2 separate regions of the Homo sapiens genome follow, and region 2 is linked to region 1. The links come from fine-mapping of genetic effects on gene expression. A gene starts in region 1. The other region holds a variant in brackets. All regions are shown on one strand. Distances are from middle to middle. Region 1 holds the start of BCL6 (BCL6 transcription repressor). Region 2 overlaps LINC01991 (long intergenic non-protein coding RNA 1991).

What was found.
Region 2: its variant is fine-mapped to the expression of BCL6 in whole blood (TOPMed, PIP above 0.99).

The regions. Positions count from the first base shown.
Region 1 is chr3:187,740,521-187,748,852 of GRCh38, reverse strand. It overlaps BCL6 (BCL6 transcription repressor), which reads left to right and starts at 3,385. Exons shown (of 10, transcript NM_001706.5): 1 at 3,385-3,443. It overlaps BCL6-AS1 (BCL6 antisense RNA 1), which reads right to left and starts at 5,184. Exons shown (of 2, transcript NR_173091.1): 1 at 4,809-5,184; 2 at 2,827-3,609. RefSeq lists enhancers at 3,747-4,272, 6,663-7,162, 7,163-7,664.
Region 2 is chr3:187,961,469-187,969,800 of GRCh38, reverse strand. It overlaps LINC01991 (long intergenic non-protein coding RNA 1991), which reads left to right. Exons shown (of 3, transcript NR_135538.1): 2 at 2,592-3,072. Among named protein-coding and RNA genes, the nearest start is that of LINC01991, 11 kb to the left of the region's middle. The variant G/A (reference allele first, on the strand shown) is at 4,829.

The DNA.
Region 1 (8,332 bases):
GAAGTCTGCAGGAATTATTCATACGACCCCAGACATGGAATCACTCTTTAGAGCTTCTTAAGGATGATTTAAAAGAATCAGAATACGTTCAAGTCAGCCCTTTCTTTAATCCTGTAACACGGCACTGCGGGAGTGAGGGAGGCCCACATAGTGATGCCAACTGGATACTGAGGAGAGGTCAAGAATGAAAGAAGAAATGACATTCTGGAAGAAATTCAACTGGTATAATATTTGACAAAGTTACTTTCCTAGGAATTGAAAAGAGATTGAGAGGCGGGTGCACAATTTTCCTCACCATTCATTCAGTTCAAAGTAAAAGAGACTCACCGAAAAGTAAGTGCCTATCTTTAGAAAATTTTCAATAATGATTTTCTCTTTCTTTCTAACTGGTCTTCTGTTCTGGTCAATTTCTTTCAGTGTAAACACATTGATTTGGCAAAAAGCAGTAGGAAAATGTGGCACTCTGGCACTTGGTCCCAGAAATAATATGCTGGGAAGATTTGAGGTCCCTGGTGATGAGGTTAATTATATATGAACCAGCCCTGGTGGGTTCTCCCTCTAGGGGCTCACTGCAGAGAATTAAAGAGGGCTGAGGTATGAGAAGGGTGAATTCCTTCCCAGCCCCCACTCTGGCTGGTTCTACTACTGCCTTAGAGAGCAGATTTCCCTTTGCTCTGCAGCGCCCCCATGGGGCTAAGAGTGGAGTGGCAAAGGGAACACAGGAGGGACAAGCTGTGTTTCAGGTTGAGGGGGGCGGTGGATGAGGCTGAATGGCAGTTTTGACAAAGAAAAAAGTGACCAAAAATCATAAAAATAATCTTTTGAGGGCCCAATAGTAAGGCAGAGCCATACAATTCACATTCCAAACCATATAGATACGTCTGAGAAATCCTAAAGTGCTAATTGCTCATAAAAGAAAAAATTACACATATAAACACACAAAGAAAATCCCTTCCACAAAATCGGGGTGTCATTTTGCATCCAGCGGGATTCATTTTAATTTCTTTGAAAATGAGAAGGAAGGGGACTCAAATGAAAAAGCAGATAGTCTGCCTTCTGGCAGAATAAATCTGAACTTGACAATATCATGTGTCTTTGGGGGTAAAACGTACATTTCAACAACAGTGACAGGATTAGGCCTATGTATATTTTTCAAAAACCGTTCACAAGACAGGCTTTTCTGCAGAGGCTGCAGTAATCCATCTGTCAATAAGTATTAAAATATTCAGATTTCACAGGGACAGACACTTTAACGCATATTTCCTAAGCTCCAGCCCTTGTGGAAAATAATCAACCTCTTTGCACCTTTCTGGGTTTTAAAACCTAAAATACAGCCTTTAAAAATGTGTGTGTGTTGTGGGGTAGGGGGGTGCATTGCCAACAACATTTTCGGTGATAGATGGAACTTCTTACGGGACTGTCAATGAAAGAGATTTTCCAAATATCCCAGCAAACAGCAATCTTTCACAGCTCTGATCACTCCTCCATTATAAACCCAAATTTTGGGTTGAGATAGGTAGATTATTTTAGACATATCTTTATTAGAAATTAACAAGTGACGAGATTTTGTGGAAGCTTTAAGAATTCATCTGTAATTTAATAAGTCGCTTGAAGGACTCTCATAGCCAAGGCTCAGAACAGCCTGACCTTTGAAAGCTGCTTCTGGTCCAAACATTTTGGGCTAATTCTTGAGGAATCTGAAATATTATTTTCCCCTCACACCCTTCTTTTAAGAGAGAGACATAAAAGAAACAAGAGTCTCCCTTATTCAGGGATGAGTAGGAGGGGAAAAAACCCGAACCAACATTTAAATAAGGAAACTAGCAGCTCTGAACAAACAAACTAGGACCCACAATGAAATGATTCTGCACTGCAATTGCCTTTAAAAAGAAAGTAATAGAGAAAAAGAGAAGGAAAGAATTTCTCCTTCTTCTCTACCCCCCCCCCACCCCACCCCCCAACTCAGCTTCAAAGCTAAGAAGACTGTGCTGCGTGTAGTGCATTGTAGTTGTGGCAGTCTGTTCTAAATACAGGCAGTATCTGTGATACTGGCACGGCAGGCCTTTAGAATTCCCTCCGGCTGATCTCTTAAACACAGACTGAAGAGATTTTTTTACAACGACCTTGAAACGAGCCTCGAAAACAAAAATCTCAAGACCTTAAGAGAAAACAAAACACAAACAGGTATTTGGCTCACAGAATTTTGTAGAAAACACACACATACCACCCCGCCACCCCCACCCTCCCCCCCACACACACGTTTCTTGCAACAAGAAATTTCCCAAGAGTCAACAATAACAGATTAAACCCACCACTTGCTGTCCTGGAAAGAAACAAACCAAACCAAAACAAATCCTTTGAACATTTCTCTGAAGTGCAGGAGAGACACACTTCAGCAAAAGTCCAAGGGGGAAAAAGAAAATTGCACCAAAGGAAAAAAAAAAAAAAAAAGTGGGGGCTGGGATTGTTACATATGGCCAAAAATTTAAGCTTCTTTCAATAGTATTAGTATTGAAATAATACATCTTTAAAACGCTTGAGGGATTAGATAGGGAAAGAAAAGGCACGTACAAAAAAATCCAACCGATGCCGATCCTGTGATTTACGTAACACCACAAACTTGCAAAAGGCAAAAAATCAGAAGCAAAAATCCATAAACCATCAAAATACAGAAACCAAAAATCCCAAGCCACCACACCAGAAAGAAAAAAACCCAGAACAACAGCAAAAACCCCTGTCCTAAATAAAAATAAAGCAAATGAACCCACCGAAAACTGCTTGGCAAATATTTTTCTCGTGGTGCCTAATATTCTAGTTGGAAAGAGCTGTGATGTTTATTTTATTTTATTTTTCTCTTACTCGCCTCTCTAACCCTACTATATATATAACATACTTTTCCCAGTGGTTCAAACCTCTCGCTCCCTTTTGTGCATTTAGCTCGATCTGCTGAGTTTATGGGTAAGAAAGAAGGAATTAGCCCCAGACCCCGGGAAAGCAAAGCGCACTCCCCCTCTTATGTCACCGAATAGCAAATTAGTTCTCAGAATTCCAGAGGCCGAGCTTTGCTACAGCGAAGGCGCCGACGTCACAGAGGAGGAGCCCACGTGATGGTGGCGGAGCAGGCCATACCATCGTCTTGGGCCCGGGGAGGGAGAGCCACCTTCAGGCCCCTCGAGCCTCGAACCGGAACCTCCAAATCCGAGACGCTCTGCTTATGAGGACCTCGAAATATGCCGGCCAGTGAAAAAATCTTGTGGCTTTGAGGGCTTTTGGTTGGCCAGGGGCAGTAAAAATCTCGGAGAGCTGACACCAAGTCCTCCCCTGCCACGTAGCAGTGGTAAAGTCCGAAGCTCAAATTCCGAGAATTGAGCTCTGTTGATTCTTAGAACTGGGGTTCTTAGAAGTGGTGATGCAAGAAGTTTCTAGGAAAGGCCGGACACCAGGTGATTATTGCTGTTGCTGCCGCCGCTGCTGCTGCTACTGCCGCCGCCGCCGCTGTTGCCGCTGGTGCCGCTGCCGCCGCCGCTGCTCATGATCATTATTTTACCTTTTAATTCTTTTTTTTTCCGCTCTTGCCAAATGCTTTGGCTCCAAGTTTTCTATGTGTATCTATTGATATAAATGTATATATTTATTTATTCTAGCTGTCAGGTGTTAAAATAAATGCCGAAGATTAGTCCCACGTCTCTCCCACCATAGGATATAGATTGTTATGTATTTATTATTATTATTGTTGTCTTTGAGTGAATCGGCCGGTTTGGGGAGGCTTTTGCCACCCTCCCTTGTGTTGTTTTGGTTTTTGGAAAGGAGGTGGAGGAGAGGAAGGAGGGGAATTAGGGGGCGGCCGGAGCAGAGAGGACGAGACAGTGCTTGGGGGGTGATTCGGGCTAGTCTGGGGGCTGTCTGGCCCCAGACCGCGGAGAGGACGCGCGCTCGCGCTCTCGCTCTTTCTGCTGCTGCTTGCGTACGGCTTGTGATCTCTCTGGATTCGTGCGGCTGTGTTTTTTCCCTCTTTTCTCGCTTGCAAACTGCTTTCCTTGCTCCGTCGCTCCTGGCCTCCGCTTCCCTCCCTCCTCTTTTTCCTCGCCTCTTCTTCCTTCCCTTCCCCTGTCCTTCTGGGTAACTCCGGGAGGCAAAAAGGGAGGCTGCCCGCTCGCTCGCCCCGCTGGCTCTCTTCCATCGGCCTCGGTCTTTTAGATTCCCTGCCTTCGAGCCGAACCGAGATTTGGAAGGAAAAAATGCAAGCGAACTCTTTGGGTTTTTGTTTTTGTTTTTTTGGTCATAAATCCAGATGAGATGAAGTATCGTGTCTACTATTTCCTTTCAGAGCCGTGATCTTCCTAATGAGAGCCGAGTGTTTTGGTGTTCCCTGCCCCTGTGTTTTGGGGAGCTTGGGGGCGGGGATGTTGAACACTTTGAAAATTATTCTTTCTTGGTTGTAGTCGAGGGAGTCGGGAACCTCCGCGCGCTCTCCCTGCTCATCCCGAGGAGAGAGACTGATGGCGGGACAGGGCTTCTTGGGGTGGGTGGGAAAGGGGTGCGCACTGCACCTGCGATGCCTTTCAGTGTGCGGGGGGACTCAGGGAACCTCGACAGGACAGCCTGGGAGAACGAGAAAGGTGGCGGGATTTCTGGCCGCTGCGGTGTTTGTATTTTGGGCGCTGCGTGACTCTGTGTTGGCTCCCAATGGCTGTTGCCTCCCTTTCCTAAATTTTATTTTATTTTTTCCCATGGTGCAAGCTCTGTAAAAAGGGAACTGCGGGCCTGAGCGTAGTGGACGCCAGGCTTCAGATTCCCGAGGTCCTTACCTTGGGCGAGGAGAAAGACGAACAGAGCCCCAGCCCGCGTTCCTTATGTGCAAGACTCAGGAGGAGAGAAGGGCACTTTGTGGCCGTGGCTGAGGGGACCCGGCGCGGGAGGAGCGGGCGCGGGCGCGAAAGGGAGATCTTTGTGAGTGATTTTGCAAAAATAGATTGCGAGGTTGGTTGGATTTGCAACCTGTGGCTCTCCTCGAGGGAGTAAGAATGGGGGAAGGCGCGGCGGCGGCGGCCCGGGGAGGGAGTGGGTAGAGTTGGAGCCTCAGAAATCGGCTGAGCTCCGGGGGCGGGCGGGGAGAAAGGGCGGGGGGGCAGCAGGAGCTAGGGGCCACCCCGCTGCCGGATGTAGTGACCGTGGTAAATGTCTTGAGAACTGTGGGTTGCGTTGCCTTTATGATGCCGTGTTATTGGAACCCTGGCGAAAAATGGAACTAGTGTTGCAATAATGAGTTTTAAAGCTCCCCCATGGAAAACAAAAACACAACCAAACCGATTTTTTAAAAAAATGAAAAAAGACCCTCTGTGTTGTGTTCCCTTCTACGATGGTTGTGTTGGTGGCTGGGGTTTGGGGGTGGGGGGTCCTGACAGTTGAGCAGATAAATGACCCCAAACCAGGTGCTGAAAGTCCCAAGCTGTCACAGGGCCCCTGACCACCTCAGAGAGCCAATCTCCACTCCGCGCCCCCTCCCCGCCGGCCCCCGCCACCCCACAACCCGCCAGGATTTAATCTTTTATGGATTTTTTTTTCAGTTTATAGTTTCCAGGAGGAAAGTCTTGTAACGCTTTACTTTTTCTCTTCTTTTTTTAAAGTAAAGTGAGTGTCAGTAGATGTGTTTTTTACAGTCTGGATTTTAAAAAAAGTGGGGCAGGAGAGAGGGAACCAGGGAAAGGGCTGTTTAGAAATACAGTTTGTGGCTCTGAGCGATGCCACCGGCTTCCTCTACAGAGACTGCCAGTTTCCCTTTTTCTTTGCAAGGTGTGTGTGGTTTTAATAAATAACTTAAAAAAAAAAAGAGGGGGCGGCAAGATCCATCAGGAGACAGGTATCTATTTTGCTCACTATTTACTACCAAGAGCCTTTGGCACTAGAACAGAACCTCGTAAATCTGCAGCCCAAGTTGAAGTTCATCTGGCCCTAGTCCACACGCTATTCCTGGAGGTAGCAAACATGAGCTCAAAGAAGAGAGATGAAATCACATTCTTGCTTTAAAATATATACTTTTTTAAAAAAGACGAAAAGATATTTGTCTCTGGGGGAGGAGGAAATGGCGAACAAGTACCAGGAGATGGGCATTCCCTTACTCTAATGACTGCAGTTGAGTCTTCAGGCCAAAATAGAAACCTGTAGATGGCAACTCTCTCTCCACCTCCCCGCCCCGCCCGCCACCCCAAGCTTATAAATAGAAGTTTCCAGTATCCTATTTGGAAGACTTTCCAATACTAGAGGCCGAAGCATTGGCTAGTTTTAAGGGTTGTTGATAGTGACAGTAAGGCTAGATGCTGTTCATAAAAACTGGGCGACTTGAAGGAGACAGCCAGAAAAAGTGGGAATTCTCCAATTGCCCCTTTCTTCTTTTCAGTTTTGAAGGGTTTTATACCAATGCTTTCTTGAAAAGACTAACTTATTCTGGGTTTGGTGGATAGGGATGGGACTCTAAATGCTTAAGTTGTCGTTTGCTGAGCCCTTGAAGAGTTCCAGTTATTGGTTGAGTAAATGGTAGCCACGGCTAGATGTCAAAACCCTTCCTTCCCTCTATCCCCTACAGGGTAATGACACTCACAACCCACTTTGTTGTGAAAAACTTAAGAGATATAGAGGAGGCGGTGCAGCAGCGCCACCCCTCGGTGGGTGAAACTATTGGCAAAAGTCAATTTTTGAAAAATATTGGGAAGTGAACTTATGAAACATTTTTCCCCCAGAGATTTAAAAAAAATAGGGGAGATAAAACTAACGGATAAAAAGGACTTTGAAGTTTATCAAGTAGGGAAGAAAAATGTTGCTTTCCAACTAGGATGGTGTTATAATAGGCAACGTGGTTCTAAGGTTTTTTTTTTTGGTGGGGGGAGGGTGCCTGGTTGATTTTAAGTAGAAGAGTTCTCCAGGCGGAGGTAGCCCGGCCTTCCCCTTGGATTGACTTCTCAGGGCATCTTAATTCTGCTGCCTGTCTGATACCGAGATAGTGAGGGATGTTTTGGTGTAAAACACCATAGTGGCTGGAAATGCTGTAGTTTTGCCGGCGGTGGCAGGACGTATGTGTAGGGGGTGTGTTGAGGAGGTTTGTGGATGGCGTGGAGCAATGGTAGGCTGGTCTGTAGCCCTCTGTGAATCAACATCGAATGGCGCGTGCCGGTTTCCAGCACTGCGCAACAAGTGGGACCGCCGCTGCCGCCGCGAGCACAGCGAGGGTGCAGCGTGGTGGCAGAACTGGCTGGTTTCTCTTTGCCCCAGTGGAAACCAGGAACGGCCCCTCCCAACCCTCCCGATGTCCACTCCGAGACCCACAACTTCACCAAAAGACCATACCCGACTCCCCACTCCCCCGCTTTGCCAGGCGCAGTGAGCCTGAGTGGGATCCAGCACTCGGCCCCCAGCGCCCCTTTCCTCCGAGAAGATCAGGAGTTTATTCCCGACTTTCTTTGCTGGATGACCAGTGTTTGGCAAGAATCTCTGCCAATACTGTCGAGTGCCATTCTGCCTTTTGAAGACAAGTGCACCTTCTTTCCCTTCCCAGTACATAAAGCTTTTCGGAGGCTGGGGGAGAAATCAACTTATGATACATGAAACCAGCTCCAGATACCGCGTTGTGGTTGCTAGAGGCGGGAGCATCGGGAGGAACGGAATTACATACACTAAATTAAATGTTTTCTAGCTTTGCTTTTAGAGGCAATCACACCCCCAACCCTCGCCCCCACCAGACAGAAAATAAAGAGGGGCGGGTAGGGATCGGTGTGGAAGCTGCGGCCGCGCGGCGATTCTCGGACGGGCTGGCCTGCCACCTAGCGGTGGGCTGAGATCGAGTTCGCGGCCATGGGCGGTGGGCTCGCCGTTCCACCTCCCGGGCGGCGGTACCCTGACCAGATGCTAGGACTGACAGAAGGAGGGCACCCTCCAATGGGGATGGCATACAACCTCCAAAGTTTTGGCAAGAGGGATGAAAATCAGAAAGGCCTCGCTGCTTGCCCATCACTCAGCGATGAGCATCTATTTGCACTAAGAAAAACCACAAATAACCCGCTTCGAACACACCATCTTCCTGTCCCTGTGGCCCCTCTTAGGGGAAGTCGGTAGTGGAAGGATGCCACCTAGGAGCTCAGGGGCTTTGGGACGTACAACTCTGTTTTGCAGTTGAGGAAACAGGCCCGACGAGGAGGCTTGTTAGTGGTGAGTTAGTGACTTAACCAGGACCAGATTTTAAGCTTCTGAATTTCATGTCAGTGACTGAAAGCCAAAGGCGGGTTTATCTCAGCTCCTTAGAAGTATTTATGAGAAAGGAGCGGCTGCCAGAACCATGAGT
Region 2 (8,332 bases), 220 kb before region 1:
TCTAACCACAAGTCATACCCCAGTGCCCATCTTTAAATGGGAGACTCCTTTTATCTGAGCTTGCAAAATCAGATTCATGGGTTTCTACTAATAGTCCCTTGCATTTGTGTAGTTTGTAACGTGTTTTCACATCCCTCATCACTTCTGAACTGGGTATAATCTATTGGGCAGATGTCATCTACCCTTGGTAGGACAGAAGGGCCTGGAGATCTGACAGGTAATGTGACCACTCTCAGTGTCATAGGCCTGTAAGTGGCAGCCAGGGACTTGAACTGGGTCTTCACCTCCTTGTTCTGTGCTCCTTTCCTTTGTACTAGCTACCTTCACCTAGGACACTTGCAATGTCTGGAGATGAAGCCACTGTCTAGGGCGCAGAGAAGAGTTGCCTAGCAGCAGTGTAACATTGGAGTGTGACTTAGCCATTGACAGAAAAGAACAGACATGCTAGCTTGAGAGTATCCACACTTAACTGCTAGTCCCACTTTACTGATCCAATGCAAGGAAAGAAGTCTACTTTCACTTCTCCTCTGTCTTCCATCTTCTCTTTGTTTTTTTTTTTAAAAAAAAAATAACTTTTATGGGTACTTTGTGTCTTTAGGTCCTGCTGAGGGTTCTGAGCACAACAGATATTTGGAGTCTCCTGAATGATGTAGCAGTAATGCCCTGTTCCGCCTGTTGCATAACTCCCAGCCTCATACTGCCTGGTGATGGAATTATTGATTGTTAAGCATTTCACAACACATTTTCAAAACATGCTGAAGGTCAAGAATGGATGACTCATAGGCAGTAACAGTTCCTTCTGCCTCAGTCCCTCTACATGATATTGGTGAGGTTGGTAATGAAAGTCATTGAAGAAATTGAGGCAAAAGTTAACTCTGTCCAATCCTGGCCAGCAGGATTATTAAGTAACTTGAAAAAAATAATTCCTGATACTCTATTTATTTAGTGATTGATCTTCTAAATCAGTTTGTTTTGTTGTTGTTGTTTGATTGATTGATTTTTTTGAGACAGTCTTGCTTTGTCACCCAGGCTGGAGTGCAGTGGCATGATCTCAGCTCACCGCAACCTCTGCCTCCCGGTTCAAGTGTTTCTCCTGCCTCAGCCCCCCAAGTAGCTGGGACTACAGGTGTGTGCCACCATACCCAGAAAATTTTGTATTTTTAGTAGAGATGGAGTTTTGCCATGTTGGCCAGGCTGGTCTTGAACTGGCCTCAAGCAATCCACCTGCCTCAGCCTCCCAAAGTGCTGGGATTATAGGCGTGAGCCACCATGCCTGGCTTCACTTTGTTTTTTAATACCAAGTCTCATAAATAGTATAAAGTGGGAGTTAAGGGATTTCAGTGCTGATTTTGCCACTAACTTGTTCAAAAGCACCAGAGAGTACCACTGAGGTACTCAGCTGAGGAAAAACACTTAAATGATATCTAGGGAACTTTACTGCTCTGACAGTCTGTGATTGTACATTAGTACTTTAGACAGCAGAGAGATAAACCCTGATTCCGGTTTACAGATAATTACTCATCTCTCTGCCTGAGGCCAAGAAAAGCCCTCTGTGGAGCAGTGTGGAAGAATGCCTTAGAGCACAGTAGCAGAGAGTTCCAGACCCGGAGGCAAGGGGATCTGGGTTAACTCTCAACGTTGCCAACTGTGATTTGAATCTTCTGACAGGGTGCTGGGCCTGCTAGCATCTCAGTTTTCTCACCTGTAAAATGGAGACAATAACAGTGTGTGAGCTTTTTTTGGTACAAACGTTAATGCATGAAAAGACCTACAACATGTTTCCGCATGGGCTAGTTGAAAGTTTTGGAGGAAAAAATATCAAGCTGATAATTTTTAAATTTTTTTTTTTGTTTTGAGGCAGAGTCTTGCTCTGTCACCCAGGCTGGAGGACAGTTCCACGATCTTGGCTCACTGCAACCCCCGCCTGCTGGGTTCAAGTGAATCTCATGCCTCAGCCTTCCCAGTAGCTGGGACTACAGGTGCGTGCTACCATGCCCGGCTAATTTTTGCATTTTTAGTAGAGATGGGGTTTCACCATTTTGGCCAGGCTGGTCTCGAACTCCTAACCTTAGGTGATTCACCCCCTCCTCGGCCTCCCAAAGTGCTGGGATTACAGGTGTGAGCCACCTCGCCCAGCCGTAAAATTCTTAATATGTAAGTATTTTCTTCAAAAATGAATCTAATTTGCATAACTAAAGTTTCTGAATGCTTTATCTAGAATAATCATGGGACTGGAAGTTTCTTAATAGTTCTTCTCTAGGTTTTTGCACTTTAAATACCCTGCAGGTCTTTTCATTCTAATATAACATAATCACAGTAATAAGAAGTGTGACAAAGCTCTAGTAGTTCATGGTGCCTGTGCCTCATTCACTCGTCAGCGAAGCCTCCCTCAGCATCCCCTCCCCACATCCATCCCTGCACACTGCACCCTCTCCAAGCTGCTGCCAGCCGTGCTGCTCCCCTGCCTCCTTACTGGAGTGCAAGCCAGTAAAAAAGGAAGCAAATTCGGTTATGTAAAGCACATTCTGGGTAAGGAAAGGCAAGCATGTGTTTCTGCTTGACTGAAATTGGTTTTTTTTTTTCCCCACCAGTTTGTCCTCTTATCGGGATACGTCAGAAATTAGAGAGACCCTGGCAATCACAGCTTCCACCTCCTCATTTTACAAATGAGCAACTAGGCTCAGAGTACAGAAGTGGCTTTCCCAGGGTCACACAGCCAGCTTGTGACAGAGTCAGGATTCAAGTACCATCTCCTGACTTCTCCATTGCACCAGACGTCGATAGAACACAGAGAACCTAAAAGAAGAAAGAAAAAAAAATAGAGCTTTTGGGAATATATTGGGCTTCTGGTTTTCAAGGACAATTTTATGATAAGTAGCAATGATGCCTCAAAAGCTCTGGTAGCTAGCTTGAATGAACTTATGTAATAAACATTTATCACAGAACATGTGTCATCAAACACCTGCCAGTTCTGAGCGTTGGCACCAAAGCTGCTTTCATTGTCAAAGAAAAGAGGGGGAAAGGAACTTGGCTGAACAAAGCTGGCAGACGTTTATACTAGAAAATTTAGAGGTAATTTCTAGAGGAACAGAAACACATTTTCAAAGTCTTATAAAATTTATTTAAATGTGATTGGGTGAATTTAGCAGTTAAAGAAGTGAAGAACACTGAGGTCCAATTGGTGCCTGAGGCTTCTTCCAGGACCCAGTCTTTTCTGTCTGCCTTGGGCACAGATTTCTAGATGCCTGAAGATGGACAGGCCCAGAGGTTGCCCAGAGTGATGTCTGAGATTACTGATCTCTATCTAGGCTTCCATAGAAACACATCCCAAAACGTTCTTGGTTCTTATTGGAATCTCATCTCATTTGCAGAACATGGCCAGAGTCAAAGAGACATGGACCATGTGTCACTCAGACTGAGTCCATCCATACAAAGAGAATTCTCTAGCCTGTATTGGAAGTCAATCTACATCAGCATGACAGGGCATGTAGCCGAATACGTGGCCACTTCCCTTTGGCTACCCACACATTTTTGAACTGCAAGATCTGTTCTTTATCTACTCATCTAATGGTTATTACTGGGAGAGCACTGGACTATAAATTCTGTTGCACTTGCAGGTGTAATGAGCTCTTTGAACCTCAGTTTCCTCACCCATCAGATACTATTCATTATCTGCCTTGCGGACAACACCTAGTTGTTGGGAACATTGCATGAATGGCAGGTGGAGGTGCTTTGTAAACGCTAAAGCCTGCCATGAATGTGAAGGAGTGTTGCTACTCTTCTGTGCCCAACAATGTGCTAGCACCAAGGGAGTTCAAAAGAAATGTGAGACATGGTCCCTACCCTCCAGGAACTTACAACTCATTGTTGGGAGACCAAGACACATCCCCTAAAAACAGATATGTAACACCTCAAGTCTGTGAAGTACTTACTATTTAAATGATGCCCAGAGCCTCTGAATCCCCTAGAAGTACAGAGGAGGGGGAGATCATTAATGGTGTGGAGAAGTTGGAGGAGGTGAGACGATGCCAGGTGATAAAGTAGACAGAGAAGATGAAGGTCTTTTTTTTGAGACAGGGTCTCACCCTGTTGCCCAGGCTGGAGTGCAGTGGCATGATCGGCCCACTGCAACCTCCACCTCCTAGGTTCAAGCAATTCTCGTGCCTCGACTTCCTGACATAGCTGGGACTACAGGCGCACACCGCCACACCCGGCTAATTTTTGTATTTTTAGTAGAGACAGGGTTTCACCATGTGGGCCATGCTGGTCTCGAACTCCTGACCTCAAGCAATCCACCCACCTCAGCCTCCCAAAGTTCCGGGATTACAGATGTGAGCCACTGTGCCCTGGCCTGAAGAAGGTCTTTATGGGTACGGCATGACTGCTGGAGAGTTTTGTCACCGCTGCTTAAGGAAGAGCTTCCCAATGTTGGATATGTCTGTAACTTCATAATTTTTTTTTAATTTTGCGCTTTTGTGAATTTCCTCAATTGGCTTTCTTATTGGCCCCCAGGATCACACAGAACACTTCAAACTCCTCTTACGTGTTCTTGATTTCATCATTTAGCTGAAGATGCAGGCCCTGTCTTTCTTTCTGAGTTTTCCTTAGCACCCTCCTTTTAAATTACCTTTTTCATTGGTTAAATGCCATGAAACTTCATCAATTCTAGTTTTAGCTATCACTTGACCCAAAGACAAGAGAGTTGAATCCTGGACCTTAAAGAAAAAGAAAAAAGGAAAAAAAGCTTGTGGGAACCTTATTTACCTCAACTGGGGAAATTTTTTGCTCTTGCGCAAAGGTCAGGTCCCGTGAAACTTGTGAAATAGGT[G/A]TTTTTATCTCTTTTCTTTTCCAACTGATCAGATAGATATCTTTCCAGGAATTTGGTGTCAGAAATCAAATTCAATGAGTGGGAAGTTTGACAAGATTCAGGATAGTCTTGCCAAATAGCACAAGAGAGGAGGTAAAGTTAGGTCAGGTCAAGGGGGCAGCAAAAATGAAGTTTATAACAGATATACTGTATATTTGTCATGGGAAAGGGCTTCAGTCAATAGCAATTGATATTAATAAAACATAAAAGAAATGACAATAAACAATCAGGATAACTTTGAAACAACTTCTTTTTATGTAGGTAACATTAAAGAAAATTAAAGAAAAGGAATCGCTTTATTTTATAAAATAAATGCACTACTATTTGCAAAAAAAAATTTACCTAAAAATGCTGCTACTGAACAAACAAAACTACCCAAAATTAGAGAACAAAAGCATAAAAATTGTTAACAAATAAAAAAACTATATTTTTGAAAAGTCTTAGATGATACACAAAAAATGCAGATTTGTATAAATACACCATCGCCCTGGGATGACCTCTTATCATTGTCTAAGCAAGTTGTAGTGCCACGGTGTGTTTCAGACTATGCTATAGAAAATCTTTAGCACTCACCTTAAAAGTTTAAAGTAGAAAGAACAACCTTTAACAGGATCATAGAAAATGTTCCATCAGATCAAAACAAACAAGCAAACAAACTGAAGCAGGTCATTTTTCTCTTTTTGGCACTGTGCAGGACCATATGCTTCCAGAGATGGGAATTTAAAAATAGCCTGTCACACAGCTCACATTGTAATGCTGGGACATGATGCGGGTGGGAAAGATTGCCTCACACTTAATAATAGTGACACTTCACATTTACACCAACCTCTTTGCAGAGTAACCAAGAGTATTTCTCAGTTCTTTTTTTCCTTTAAAAATAATATGATCTTCTTGATACCCTGTAAGTGGAACAGGAGGGAGTACAATTCTTCCCACCTTACAGAGAAGGCGATTGAGGCCTCCAAAGGTAAAGTGACTCACTCAGGATTACAGAGTTACCCAGGGATCAGCACTGTGCTGTTCAAAATACACCAGGCTGCCAACTGCAGCAATATCCTGGGCCTGTGAGAACCGTGGGTTCATAGGATGTTGCACAAAAAAGAGAGAAATTTGCTTCCCATTGCCTCTGTTTTGAAATGTACTGCCTTTCATCTTGAGCATTTCATAAGTTTCTAATTTTAAGGCAAATTGCTTATAAGCCATGGTGACCTATATTAGCTGACATTTGAAATCAATCTCACACCAGTAAATGCCTTAGATTTGCATTTGGTACCCCCTTGCCGAGTCATAATAACAATGTAATTTCTCACATCTCCATAATTCTTTACACTTGAAAATGGTTGTACATTCACCATCTCATCAGATCTGTATAAGCAGCTATAATTTAAGCCAGGCCAGAGTTATGATGAGAGGGAACAGAGGCTCAGGATATGAAAAAAACTTTCTCATTTGGTAAAAGCCACAGAAACTGATGAAACCCAGGTCTTCTCTCTGCATGTGTAGGGTATTTTCCTGCCAGCCACACAGCCTTTTAGGTCTAAATAAAGTGTTGAGACTCCACTGCAAGTGTGTGTGCGCTCAGGAGTGACTCTTCTACCCAGTTTGGTGCCCAGCACTCAGTTCCTAATTGGCTGCAAAACCCTGAAGGGGGATTCTAGATGTGGCGGGCACCAGGTGAAGTCAGTAGTGAGCTTCCTTTTTGGAGGGAAGGAAAATTCTTGGCATACCGATGGGTCCAGGCAGACACTTTGGATATGTGTGGAGCCCAGTGATGTTGTGTTACTGGGTAGCCTTAAACCTTATTCCAACCTTGACTCCTTCTACTCTGTGCCATAAACTCTCTCCTTCCAATACCCCCCATTCCTCTGCTGCCTTCCCCTTTATCGTACCTGGCAAAACTGCAATCCTGGTGAAATGTATATCCTCTAATTCCTCCTTTGCTTGCATCCAAACAGTGGAATGTTGTTAAGAACATTGTAAACCATGCTGATCAGTTCACTTTAAATTTGTGATCACAAACCTGAAACGGACCGTGCCAGAGGATCCTATGATACATTTAGCAAATTCACTTTTTGGTTTCTGGGTCAACTCTTTCAAACCTTTAGCTCCCTACTTGAATATCCACTATGCTCTACACATCCCATGCCCTGGGATTATGACCTTCCTTTTTGCTATCAGAGGAGAGTTATTGCATTTTTCCTTAACCCACCTGCATCTGTGCCCACATACACTACCTCCCTCTTATTATAGTGGAGGAAGTGGCATAGTTTCTAAGGCCAACCCTTCCATTTGTCCTCTGTATCCCATCTCCTTTCCTATGCTTCTCTCTTGCAACATCAAATTCTGATGTTCCTTTACATCTAACCCATCAGCATACAAATATGCCTTTATAACAACTACTAAAAATAAAAAAAAACCCAGCTCTCCCTTGGCCCTACATGTCCCTTTAACTACCACCCCCTTTCTTTAATGCCTTCACAAAAAGACCTTTAAAAGTAAGATCTACATTTCCTGTCTCCACTTCTTTAGCTCCCTTTCTCTCCTCAACTCTGCTCTAATTTTCTTCAGACTCTATATCACTCCACTTAAACAGCCTTTATCAGAGTCACCAATGACCTACATATTTCCAAGGTCGAAGTGTATTCAGCTAACTGAACTATTGAGCTGAATTGGACATGGTCAATCCTTCATACTTCTTTAAACACTTTCTTCTCTAGGCTTTGTGATCCCACACTCACCTGGTTTGTCCTTACCTTTCTGTCTCCTTGTCTGGCTGTTTCTCCTCGACATCAGATTTTGGCGTGCTCTGGGGTTCTTATCTCTATTCTGTCTGTACTCTTCTTGGATGAACTCATTGAGTCCCCTGGCTTTAAAATACCATTTATACGCAGAAAACTTCAAATCTCTATCTCTAACTGACTTCTCCCTTGAGCTTCAGACTCCATAACTCTACTTGTATATGTAAAAAGCACTTCACACAAACTGTGACCCAAACCAAACTATTGATTTAGTCTTTCTCTACCCCGAATTCCTTCCCCTCAAGTCTTCCCTATCACAGTAAGTGCTACCTGGCCTCCTAGCTATTCGTTCAACGCAAATAATTGAGTCATTCTAATATTCTTTATTTCCCTGAAACCCTATGTGTAATCTCTCAGCAAGTCCTATTGACTTTACGTCTAAAATATATGTCAAATTAGACTATTTCTCACCATCTGCACTGCTGACTATCTTATTCCAAGCTATTATCATGTTTTTCCTGCCCACACTTTTTCCCTCTACAGTCAGCTCTTCATGCAGTAGCCAGACTGATCTTTCTAAAGCCATAAATTATAAGTTTATCTCTTTGCTAAACCCTCTTACCATGAGCTATAAAACCCTACATGATCTGGTCCCAACTGCCTGTTCAGCATCATCTCCCTCCACTCTCAGCCTCATCCATGAAGTTCACTGGCCTTTTTCTCCCTC